Linked DNA regions of Homo sapiens. The protein of the gene in region 3 binds, or shares a complex with, the protein of the main gene of each other region. Each region holds a gene or a part of one and is shown on either strand. Other genes may lie near its edges.

Region 1 (3,651 bases), on a different chromosome or scaffold from region 3:
AAAATTAGTTGGGCACGGTGGTGTGCGCCTGTAATCCCAGCTACTTGGGAGGCGAAGGCACAAGAATCGCTTGAACCCACGAGGCGGAGGCTGCAGTGAGCCAAGACTGCGCCACTGAACTCCAGCCTGGGCAACAGAGTGAGACCCTACCTCAAAAAGAAATCTTTCCAAAATCTAGTCCTATAAGAAATCCAAAACACGTTCGTAAGGAACATGGAGGCACTTGGGACCCACCGCCCTCTGCCTCGGTGTGGGGAGGAGGCTCCCAGCCAGCAGAGAGTGGGGGCCAACAACATAAAGACGCTCTCCTCGGCAAACAGCCTGTTACCTTGTAAGAAAAGTTCTTCTGCTGAGCTGTTTCTGATATTTTCTCTACAAGATTCTGTAGCCTTTGTTGCGTGGCATGTGATACATAACTTACTACATCTGGATGTAATTCCGTTATACCATGTTTTTTACCTAAAGGTCAGGCAAGAAAAACAGTATTTTAAAATCATTAAGCACAGTTCTTTCTTTACGGCTAATCTCTGATCCAGCAGTTACTGCTTTTATACAACCCAAGGGGAGCCCAGAAAGGCTGGTGGGGTGGAAGGCAGTGGTACCCATATTTTACCCAAGAACCACCACCAGCAACCATGTGGAAATCACAAACTCAGACAAAACACATGACCAGGTGTCAGGTGTGCTCACCTGAAGCTCCCATGCCCCAGCAGCGCAGCTGTTTAATAAGAACTCAGTCATTAAACACCAACGTACCTATTTCTAATATTCTTCTCTGCAAAGGCGCTTGGAGGAGGAAGGTTTCATCTTTACAGGACCGCGTTAGCGTGCCCACCAATTCAGAGTTCGTGGCTAATATTCTTGCACTTTCTTCTGACAAGTTTACTCCAGCCATCGATGCAACATCATTAATGTCATCATCGTCCCTTGAGGAAAGAAGGGAAGATCACTTTAACTGTACAAGGAATTCATCGGGAGGTGGGCTGGGGTGGTAAGGGCAGGAAACCCCACGTGGAAGGCAGGGCCGTGAGGAGGCCAGGCCTCTGTCCTCCCCGCACCTGCACCTGCTGCATCTGCCACAGCAGAGAGGGTGCCTCGCTGCTTTCCTGGAAAGCTCGATTGTTCTGCGGAAGGAGAGCTGTGAGTTGGCGCCGGGTTAACATCTACACACAGATGCGCAGGGGACTCAAGTCCAGAGAAAGCAAAGCCGGGAGCAGCGCGGGGACTTGTGGGGGTCTGATCTATGCAAAGCTTTTTAAAGCCAGAGGCAGCATTAAATTCTTTTTAAAGGCTCAGAAGTTGGAAGAAGAGTACGCACAATTTTTTCCTGAATCACCTGAAAGTTGCTAACCTGACTTTCCTCCACCCGGAACATTCTGCACGTGTTTCCTACAGACAAGGGCATCCCCTCCAGAAGCAGGATGCCATTGAGACCGGGCCATGATGAATGGCCCCTCCCCAGGCCCTCCCCCGTAGGACCCGGTCCCAGCAGCGCCTCTCCCTGCAGGACAGTCTGCATCCCAATCCCAGCTGCCACGTCTTGTCCGGCTCCTCAAGCTGGAAGGTTCCTCAGCCTCTCCTGACTCCTGGGCTGCCCCTGACACCTGGAAGGCACAGGCCAGCTGTGTGCAGGACGTCCTCTTCCAGGCTGACTTCGGCCCCCTCGTGAGGAGATGTGAGCTAAGAGTCCTGCCGGGAATTCCACATGCACGCAGCCTCCACTTGCCGCCTCCAGCAGTGGGCTTTGAACGTGAGGCCGGGGGCCTGCCTGGCGTCTCCTGGGGTCGTTGTGTCTCGGGGAAGAGCTCTACAGCAGTTCTCATGCCCAGTCCTCCTATGGGCTCCAGGTGCTCACTCAGGGTCTTGGCATCCCTGGTGGTCACGGGCTGTGGCTGGGCTGCACAGCTTAGGGCTCCAGCTGAAGGACCCGGCCATGGGAGGGAGGCTGCTCTGCTGACATCCACGTCCACGTCATGCCCATGTCCACTGCTCTCTGACACAGGACGGTCTCCGCTCATCTTGTATTTCCTTATCCCAGTCCCGCAATCAGCCTTTTCTCTCAGGAGTCCTTGTCATTTTAGTGGAAAACGGTTTTTAGAAGACAACATCTGAACACTAGGTGTGCTCAGTGTTACTGGGGCGTTACTGTTCCCAGGACCCTGCGGTGAACAAAGCTAGAAACTTACGGCAAGACCCATGGTTATCCATGCCTGCCGACACACTGAAACCCAGGGGTTTGCGTCAGCATTCCAATCCTGAGCCAGCCCACAGGGGTCACTCTCCTTTATCCCTTCTGCCAGGCCGCTGACTCCTTGACAGCAAAATACCAAGGCTTCCTGCAGCCTTGATTAATTCTTTCACCCGTGTATGTCCCTAAGTGCCCTCCCTTCTCACTGAAGTATCAGCGTCACGCTGGGCCCAGGCATGCTGGCCACCTCTCCCTGCTTGGGCTGGGACTCTGGCTCAGGCCACAGCCACTCCCCAGGCCTGCTATGCCCTGCCTGATGCCTTTAGGGATGAAGTGTCTGGGAAAGGGAAAATTCACAGTAAGACTTCCTGAAATACACACAACTCCACCGCCCCTTGATCACAACAGAGATCACTCCAAGACTCTCCCACTGCTCAGGTCCCATAAGCACCTCCCTGACTGAGGTGATGCTCAGACCACCTGCTTTCCAGGAGGCCCAGGCAAAGCACAGCAGTTATTTTTCTAGAAACAGGGCCTCACTCTGTCACCGACGCTGGCGTACACTGCTAAAACCATAGCTCACTGTAACACTGAACTCCTGGGCAGAAGTGATCCTCCTGCCTCAGCCTCCCAAGTAGCTAGGCCCACAGGCACACACCACCAAGCCTGGCTAATTTTTTATTTTTTGTTGTTGTTGAGTAAGGTTTTACTATGTTGTGCAGGCTGGTCTCAAACTCCCGGGCTCAAGCGATTCTCCCACTTCAGCCTCCTGTAGTGCTGGCACTGTAAGCGTGAGCCACTACGCCTGGAGCAGTACAGCATTTCTGAGGGTTCTGAAGTTGAATACATGGAAAGTGAAGCATTCTATACTAGGAATGCAATGAACTCAAAATACGATGTTATACTAAAAAATGAATTTCCTATTAGTTCATATAAAAATAATCAGTTGATTCGCTTTCTGGCTATGTGTATGAAGCAAAACCTCTTTGAGCCAACTGTATGGGAAAACACACTTGTGTGAACGTGAGGTCAAAGTGAGCGTGAAGCAGGAGCCTTGGAGCCCCGGCCGCCAGGGCCACGTGGGAAAGACCCGTGGGCGGGAATGGAGCAGCACGGACTCTGGACTCTTCTCCGCTCTGGCCACGCTTCTCCAACGTACACAGGCCCATTCCTTACCGAAACGAACCTCCCCCAGGCTCCTTGAGTTTATTTTTCTGTGCAGCAGCTGCTTGTGCCGAGACAGCAGAAAGGGCTTTGGTTCCAGGTAACACGGCGGGTTTCACCACAGGGACTACAAAACAAACACACAGTGGAAACCACACAAGGCTTTTATTAGATCAACTATGTGCTTTGGTGCTTTACAGGCTCAAGGGCACAGCTACCACTCTCCTAATTAGCTACAAGAAAGTTTCCAAAAACTTCATATTAATAACTCTAAATTACAGTACAAAGTGTAAGCTGTA
Region 2 (3,651 bases), on a different chromosome or scaffold from region 3:
TTAGAGGAGGTCACTGGTATAACCAAGTTCTCTAAGATGAGTGAGCTTCAGCCAGGCAGAGCCTGAGATGAGGAATGGGGGAAAGAAACTGGCTTTCTAGGCAAAGGGGCAAAAGTAGCTGTGCAAAGCAGAGAGGCAAGTGAGAATATGGCTTGTTTGGGGGAACTATGGAGATTAGGCTGGGAGCTAAAAGCTTTAGTGAGTTCATGAGAGCAGGGGAATACGATGATTGGGCCACAGGAGAGTAAGACTAGAGAAAGGGAGAGCAGTTATAAGGGTGGCCTAAGGAGCAACAGTGACGGGAAGAAAGGGGATGGATTGGAAAGCAGTCAGCACTGATCCAAGTGCCTTAGGTATATTCATTAATTTAGTCTTCACAACAGCTATGAAGCAGGTACTATTCTTATTCCTATTTTAGATAGATTGTTTAAAAACTGAGGCACAGAAAGGTTGTATAACATGTCCACGGTCACAGAGCTAGTAAGTGATGGAGCAGGGACTCTAGTCCAGGCAGTTTGGTTCCATAGTCTATTCTCAACCATGGTACTATATGCCACATTGAGAGAATGGAATTAACAGGACATGGTGACTGAATGCATGTAGAAGATTCAGTTCAGTTCCATGCAAGCTCATTATCTCTTATAAAAAATGGCTGTCATACTTGAAATTGTGTGGTCACAGCTTACATACTTAGATTGGGAAGTACAGAAATTTTTTGTTTAGTTTTCAAAGTCTATTCACTTGAACATAACCTCAATTTATTCTCATTATAACCCATTTTACAAGTGAAGAAACTGAGGCTAAGTGACTCTGATCCAAGAGTCACAAAGCTAGTGATTGGAAAGCTTAAATATAGGTCCTAGGTTTTCTGGTTCCAAGTCCCACATTATTCAGTCTTGAGTAATAGGTGTAGTCTATGCTGAACATATAATTTCTTTAGGAAAGCAATATATCTAGTTAAACAGTTGTTGAGGGCTTCCAGTGTGCTAGCCAGGATGCCAGCCAGTGCACATACATTGCTAGAGAAGCTTTTGGTCTCATAAGGGAGTTAGTTTTAGGTGAGCAAACACTGCTATAGAAACACAGACAAGAGATGTGGATGAAACAACTGGTATGTGGCTGCCAGATGCCAGGATGTGTCCTAGAAATAGTAGATGTTTTAGGAAGTCGGAATAGGGAATGATACGCCGTTTTAAGATTCTACCATTCATTTTTCTATATGGATGCCATGTTTTGATGTTTTATTCACAAAATGTGGGTCTCTGAGTTCTTGCATAGTGTCGTGTTTTAAGATAAAGGTTATTTTATGGATATATACATTGGGGATGGTCTAGTTGGCAAATAATTTACATTTTACTGTTTTGTTCTTCAGATGAAATGCATAGCTTAACTTGCCACGTGGTAAAAATGACTGGAATGGGAGAAGTGGATTTTCTGACATTTGATCCTATAGCTAAAATGGCAAAAACTGTTAAGTACGATGTACAAGCTGTAGCTATCATTGTGGTGGTATTGAAACTGCTCTTTCTATTGGATGACAGTTTCGAGTGGTAAGTGTACGTCAATTTTATGACAAGTAACATTTTATGGTGCTGATCTTAGTTTTTTAAGAAAGCTTTAAATGTCATGAAGACACTTTAAAAAAAGAGCTAAAGAAAAAATTTGTACTGTATTTACCTAATTATATGTTATCTCAAAAAATGGAGACTCTCAATTGTTACAGAACATTGACTAGTAGTCACAATTATTTCTTACACAGTACTTTGACTCAGCTGGTTGTCAGTTGTTTGATCATGTTTTATACCTGTTATTCTTTAGGTAGCAATGTTCCTCATTGCTCCACTGATTTCCTAGTTTTAAAGTATCTTCATAAATCTCTATCTATATCCCTTTAGGCTCCTGGCAATATGTGTTCTCAAAGATTATTTTAGAAAGTAAAGGAATCTTAATATGTCACCCCTCCCAGATGCCAACAAAGAGTGACAGTATTTATAGTGTCTCCTCCTCTGTTTCAGTGATTGCTTCTCCATTAAAACATGGTATCAATTTCAAATACTGTTCTACACTTTTCTCTCAGAAGAATTCAGAATTTATCTTTCCAAATACATGACTTCTAAATAAATTGATTTGTTTATTGTTATCTCCAGGTCTTTGTCTAATCTTGCTGAAAAGCATAATGAAAAGAACAAAAAAGGTATTTTAATTTTTTATCATTCAAATTCAAAGTGGTTATAGATGATAGATTAAAAGATGGAATAAATGTAGGCAAACAACTTTGAAAAATACACATATACACATAAACACATGTATACAAATTGTATATTGTACCAGTATTGTTTTTTCATATAATTACCTACTTGTATCTCTAGGGTACTAAAAAATATCAGTGAGTCCGTATTATATGTAAGACCAGGCTGCTTTGTATTCCCAACTTCTACTCACCAGCCATGCTAGATCATGAATTTACAGGCAGCTTTGTGACCATCCTGTCGATTCTGATGCTTTCAGCCTTTGCTCTTGTTGGTCCCTCTATCTGAAATGCTCTTTCCTTCTTACCCCAACTCCTGTTCAGTCCCTGGCAAATGCCTCTTTATTCTTGAAGATGCAGCATAAACACCACTCTTCTGTCTGGTCTTCACACCTATCCACTTCACAATGCTTCACCTCTTCCCAAATCAGAACTAATAACTCCTGCCGCAGTCACTCTTGTTCAGACTTTTGCTAGATGTTTAGTGCCTTGAGGTCTAACTAATGGCCTAAGTACGTCTGTCCCTATTAGATTGCCAATATTTGTAAAGTGCTTAGAAGAGTATCTGGCATCTAATAAGTACTTTATAAGTGATAGACAGATAGACAAGTGAAGTGTGAGCTTCTGGAGGGAGGGATCATATCTTTTTTTTTTTTTCTTTTAATGTATCTTTAGTGCCTAACATAGTGACTAGCCTAAGAGCAACTCAGTGAAGTGTGGTGAATATGTGGATTATTAAATTCAATTCCAGTTTCTTAATGTTCTGTTCTCATTAGGATTTATGTTCATTGGTTTTAGAGGCTTGAATTTATTGGAAGCAATCAGTTTGTGTGTTCTTTCCAGAATATGTGCAAAATAAAATACTACTTTCTGTACATTGCTCATGTTGGCTTCTATGTAGAGTGAAAGGTTGAACTAGCTGTCTTCTAACATCCCCTCTAATGCTAAAAGATGATAATTTACTACGTAGACATGTAGAATAAACAGAGCGCTTTGACCTGTCTCCCTGTAAGCCTCAAAATAAATCCATGCTGTCAGCAGGGCAAAGATCACTGTCATTTCTCTCTGCTCTGTCTGCTAATCACCATCCCCTGCCCCCAGCATTATTGATGGGGAGATTGAGGTTTAGAAAAGTTGTGATTTACTCCAGGTCCAAGAACCGTGAGTTCTATTGATTACTATAGTTTTCCTCTGTTCTTACAGTTCTTTCGGTAGTTTCCTCTCTTCTGTGGCTGTATGGTCTACAAGGTCATATTGGATTAAACAATTATCATATTGACCAGTTGAAAAGATTTTTAGTTAGGCATGGAAAGAGACTGCCTTCGCCAGAGAATAATGGAGAATAATCCCTGTATGGAGTGAAAGAGTGAGGAGTGAGTTTTTATACTTTACTGCATTCAGTT
Region 3 (3,651 bases):
CTTCCTTTCACTGAAGATGTCTCTGTAGCATATGATACTATTTGACAGCATTTTACCCACACTAGAACTTATTTCAAAATTGGAGTCAATCCTCTCAAACCCTGCTGCTGCTTTATCAACTAAGTTTATGTAATATTCTAAAGTCATCAGTTCTTCACCAGGAGTCAATTCTATCTCAAGAAACCACTTTCTTTGCTTACTCACAAGAAGCAACTCCTCATCTGTTCAGGTTTTATCAAAAAATTGCAGCAATTCAGTCACATCTTCAGGTTCACTTCTAATTCTAGTTCACTTGCTATTTCCACTACACCTGCAGTAACTTCCAGCACTGAAGTCTAGAACCTCTCAAAGTCATCCACGAGGGTTGGAATCAACCTCTTCCAAACTCTTATTCATGTTGATATTTCACCCTCCTCCCATGAATCATGAACATTCTTAATGGCATCTAGAATGGTGAATCTTTTTCAGAAGGTTTTCAATTCACTTTGCCCAGATTCATCAGAGGAATCACTATCTATGGCAGCTACAGCATATGTCCCTCCCTGCTTCCTTTCTTTGAGACAGGGTCTCCATTGTAGCCTTTAACTTCTGGACTCAAGTGACCCTCCCGCCTCAGCCTCCCAAGTAGCTGGGACTACAGGCACATGCCACCATGACCAGCTAATTAAAAAAAAATTTTTTTTTGTAGCAACAGGGACTTGTTTTGTTACCCAGGTTGGTCTTGAGCTCCTAGCTTTGAGTGATCCTTCCACCTTGGCCTCCCAAAGTACTGAGATTACAAGCATGAGCCACCATGCCCTGCTGTATTTCTTAAATAGTAAGAATTGAAAGTTGAAATTACTCCTTGATCCATGGGCTGAAGAATGGATATATTATTTAAGCAGGCATGAAAACAATATTAATCTCCTTGTTCTTCTCCATCAGAGCTTGTGGACAACTAGTTACACTGTCAGTGAGTAATATTTTGAAATTAAACTTTTTTTCTGAGCAGATCTCAAAGAGCTTAAAATATCCAGTAAATCATGCTGTAAACAGACGTGCTCTCATCAGGTTTTGTTGTTCTGTTTACTGAGGACAGGCAGAGTAGATTTAGCGTAATTCTTAAGGCTCTATGGTTTTAGAGCAGAACATGAGCATTGGCTTCAATTTAAACTCACCAGCTCTATTAGCCCCTAACTAGTCAGCCAGTCCTCTGAAGCTTTGAGGCTAGGCACTGATTTCTCCTCTCTAGCTATAAAAGTCCTAGATAGCATCTTCTTCCAGTAGAAGGCTGTTTCATCTACATTAAAAATCTATTATTTAGTATAGTCACCTTCATCAATTATCTCAGCTAGATCTTCCAGATAACTTGCTGCTTCATGTTGCATTTTTATGTTGTGGAGAAGGCCTCTCTCCTTAAAGCTCTGAATAAACCTCTGCTAGTTTCAAAACTTTCTTCTACAGCTTCCTCTCCGCTCTCAGCCTTTACAGAATTGAAGAGAGTTAAGGCCTTGCTCTGTATTACACTTTGGCTTAAGGGGATGTGTGGGTGGTATGATCTTCTATCCAGACCATTCAAACTTTCTCCATATAAGCAATAAGGCTGTTTTGCTTTCTTATCACTTGTGGGTTTACTGGAGTAGCACTTCTAATTTCCTTTAAGAACTTTTCCCTTGCATTCACAACTTGGCTAACTATTTGGTGCAAGAGGCCTAGCTTTTAGCCTGTCTCAGCTTTCAACATGCCTTCTTCACTAAGTATAATCATTTATAGCTTTTGGTTTCAAATGAGAGATGTGCAGCTCTTCCCTTCATCTGAACACTTAATTAAAAGTCACTGTAAGGTTATTAATTAGCCTAATTTCCATATTGTTGTGTCTCAAGGAATAGGGAAGACCAAGCAGAGGGAGAGAGATGGGGGAATGGTTGGTCACGCTGCAGACATTTATCAATTAAGTTCCTGTATTATACAGGTGCAGTTTATGGCATTCAATAATAATTACAATAGTAACATCAAAGATCACTGATCACAATAACAGATAATAATGAAAAGGTTTGACTAGGCACAGTGGCTCATGCCTGTAATCCCAACACTTTGGGAGGCCAAGGCGGATGGATCACTTGCAGCCAGTAGTTTGACACCAGCATGGTGAAACTCCGTCTCCACTAAAAATACAAAATTTAGCTGGGTGTGGTGGCGCATGCCTGTAATCCCAGCTACTTGGGAGGCTGAGGCAGGAGAATCGCTTGAACACGGGAGATGGAGTTTGCAGTGAGCCAAGACTGCACCACTGCACTCCAGCCTGGGCAACAGAGTGACTGAAAAAAAAAATTAAAAAAAAAATACAAAAAAAAAGAAAAAAAAAAGTTTGATAACAATAACGGATAATAATGAAAAAGTTTGAAATCCTGCAAAAATTACCAAAATCTAACCCCAAGACATGAAGTGAGTACACACTTTTGGAAAAATAATGCCAACAGACTTGCTGGGTACAGGTTTACCACAACCTTCAATTTGTCAAACATGCAGTAAAGTGAAGTGCAGTAAAGTGAGGTGGGCCTGTGTATGAGTGGCTGACAAGCACTTGCCAAGGTGCTCAGAAACATTAGTAATCAGGCAAATAAAAATCAAAACCACAATAAGATACTACTAAGCAATCACTAGAGTGAAAGTAAAAAGACTGACAGCAGAAAGTGTTGGTGAGGATGTGGAGCAACTTAAATCTCTTATGCTGCAAAACAATACAGCCACTTCAAAAAACAGTTTGGCAGTTTCTTATAAAGTTATACATATACCAATATAGGACCTAGCAATCCTACTCCTAAGTATTTACCCATGAGAAGTAAAAACAGTGCATTCAAAGTCTACACAAATGTTTACAGTGCTTTTATTCGCAATAGCTCCAAACTGGAAAGACCCCAAATGTGAGCAACTGGAGAATGGATGAACTGTGGAACATCCAAACAATGGAGTGATACTTAGCTATACAATGGATTAACTACTGATATACAAACAGTACACTGGGCTAAGAAGTCAGACATACACAAAAAAGCATACACTCTGATTCCATCTATATGAAATTCTAGAATAGACAAAACTAATCTTCAGCATTGAAAAGCAGATGCAGTAGTTACCTGGGGCCAGCAGAGTGACTATAAAGGGGAAGAAGGGACTTTTTAAGGTAACTGAAATGTTCTGTAATTTATACATTATATATAATTATCAAAACAGACACTTAAAATGAGTTTTTTTGTATGTATATTTCAACAAAAGTTATTGATTTTTTTTTTTTTTTTTTTTTTTTTGAGACAGAGTCTCGCTCTGTCTCCCAGGCTGGAGTGCAGTGGCACGACCTCTGCTCACTGCAACCTCCACCTCCCGGGTTCAAGCAATTCTCCTTGCCTCAGCCTCCCGAGTAGCTGGGATTACAGGCACCCGCCACAACACCTGGCTAATTTTTGTATATTTTGTAGAGATGAGGTTTCACCACGTTGGCCAGGCTGGTCTCGAACTCCTGACCTCAGGTGATCCGCCCACCTTGGCCTCCCAAAGTGCTGGGATTACAGGCGTGAGCCACTGCACCCAGGCTGAAAAATTTTTAAAGTAGATGGGTGGTTGAGAGCTTGAAATGTAAAAGGGGAAAAATAAAACTAGAAAATAATTTGGTGAGGG

What was found.
Region 1: TBP (region 3) and TAF4 share a complex: the UniProt entries of both Homo sapiens proteins name them as parts of the TFIID basal transcription factor complex.
Region 2: TBP (region 3) and TAF1B share a complex: the UniProt entries of both Homo sapiens proteins name them as parts of the transcription factor SL1/TIF-IB complex.

Annotation. Positions count from the first base shown.
Region 1 is NC_000020.11:61,999,796-62,003,446, forward strand, and holds part of TAF4 (transcription initiation factor TFIID subunit 4), read right to left. Parts: intron 3,480-3,651; coding exon 3,365-3,479; intron 2,834-3,364; exon of another isoform or gene 2,019-2,833; coding exon of another isoform or gene 1,352-2,018; intron 1,125-1,351; coding exon of another isoform or gene 952-1,124; exon of another isoform or gene 933-951; intron 927-932; coding exon 757-926; intron 460-756; coding exon 329-459; intron 1-328. Other genes in the region: uncharacterized protein LOC105372704, read right to left, coding at 952-1,124, 1,352-2,018. UniProt on the Homo sapiens protein: The TFIID basal transcription factor complex plays a major role in the initiation of RNA polymerase II (Pol II)-dependent transcription.
Region 2 is NC_000002.12:9,909,364-9,913,014, forward strand, and holds part of TAF1B (TATA box-binding protein-associated factor RNA polymerase I subunit B), read left to right. Parts: intron 1-1,372; coding exon 1,373-1,550; intron 1,551-2,147; coding exon 2,148-2,194; intron 2,195-3,651. UniProt on the Homo sapiens protein: Component of RNA polymerase I core factor complex that acts as a GTF2B/TFIIB-like factor and plays a key role in multiple steps during transcription initiation such as pre-initiation complex (PIC) assembly and postpolymerase recruitment events in polymerase I (Pol I) transcription.
Region 3 is NC_000006.12:170,557,369-170,561,019, reverse strand, and holds part of TBP (TATA-box-binding protein), read right to left. Parts: intron 1-3,651. UniProt on the Homo sapiens protein: The TFIID basal transcription factor complex plays a major role in the initiation of RNA polymerase II (Pol II)-dependent transcription.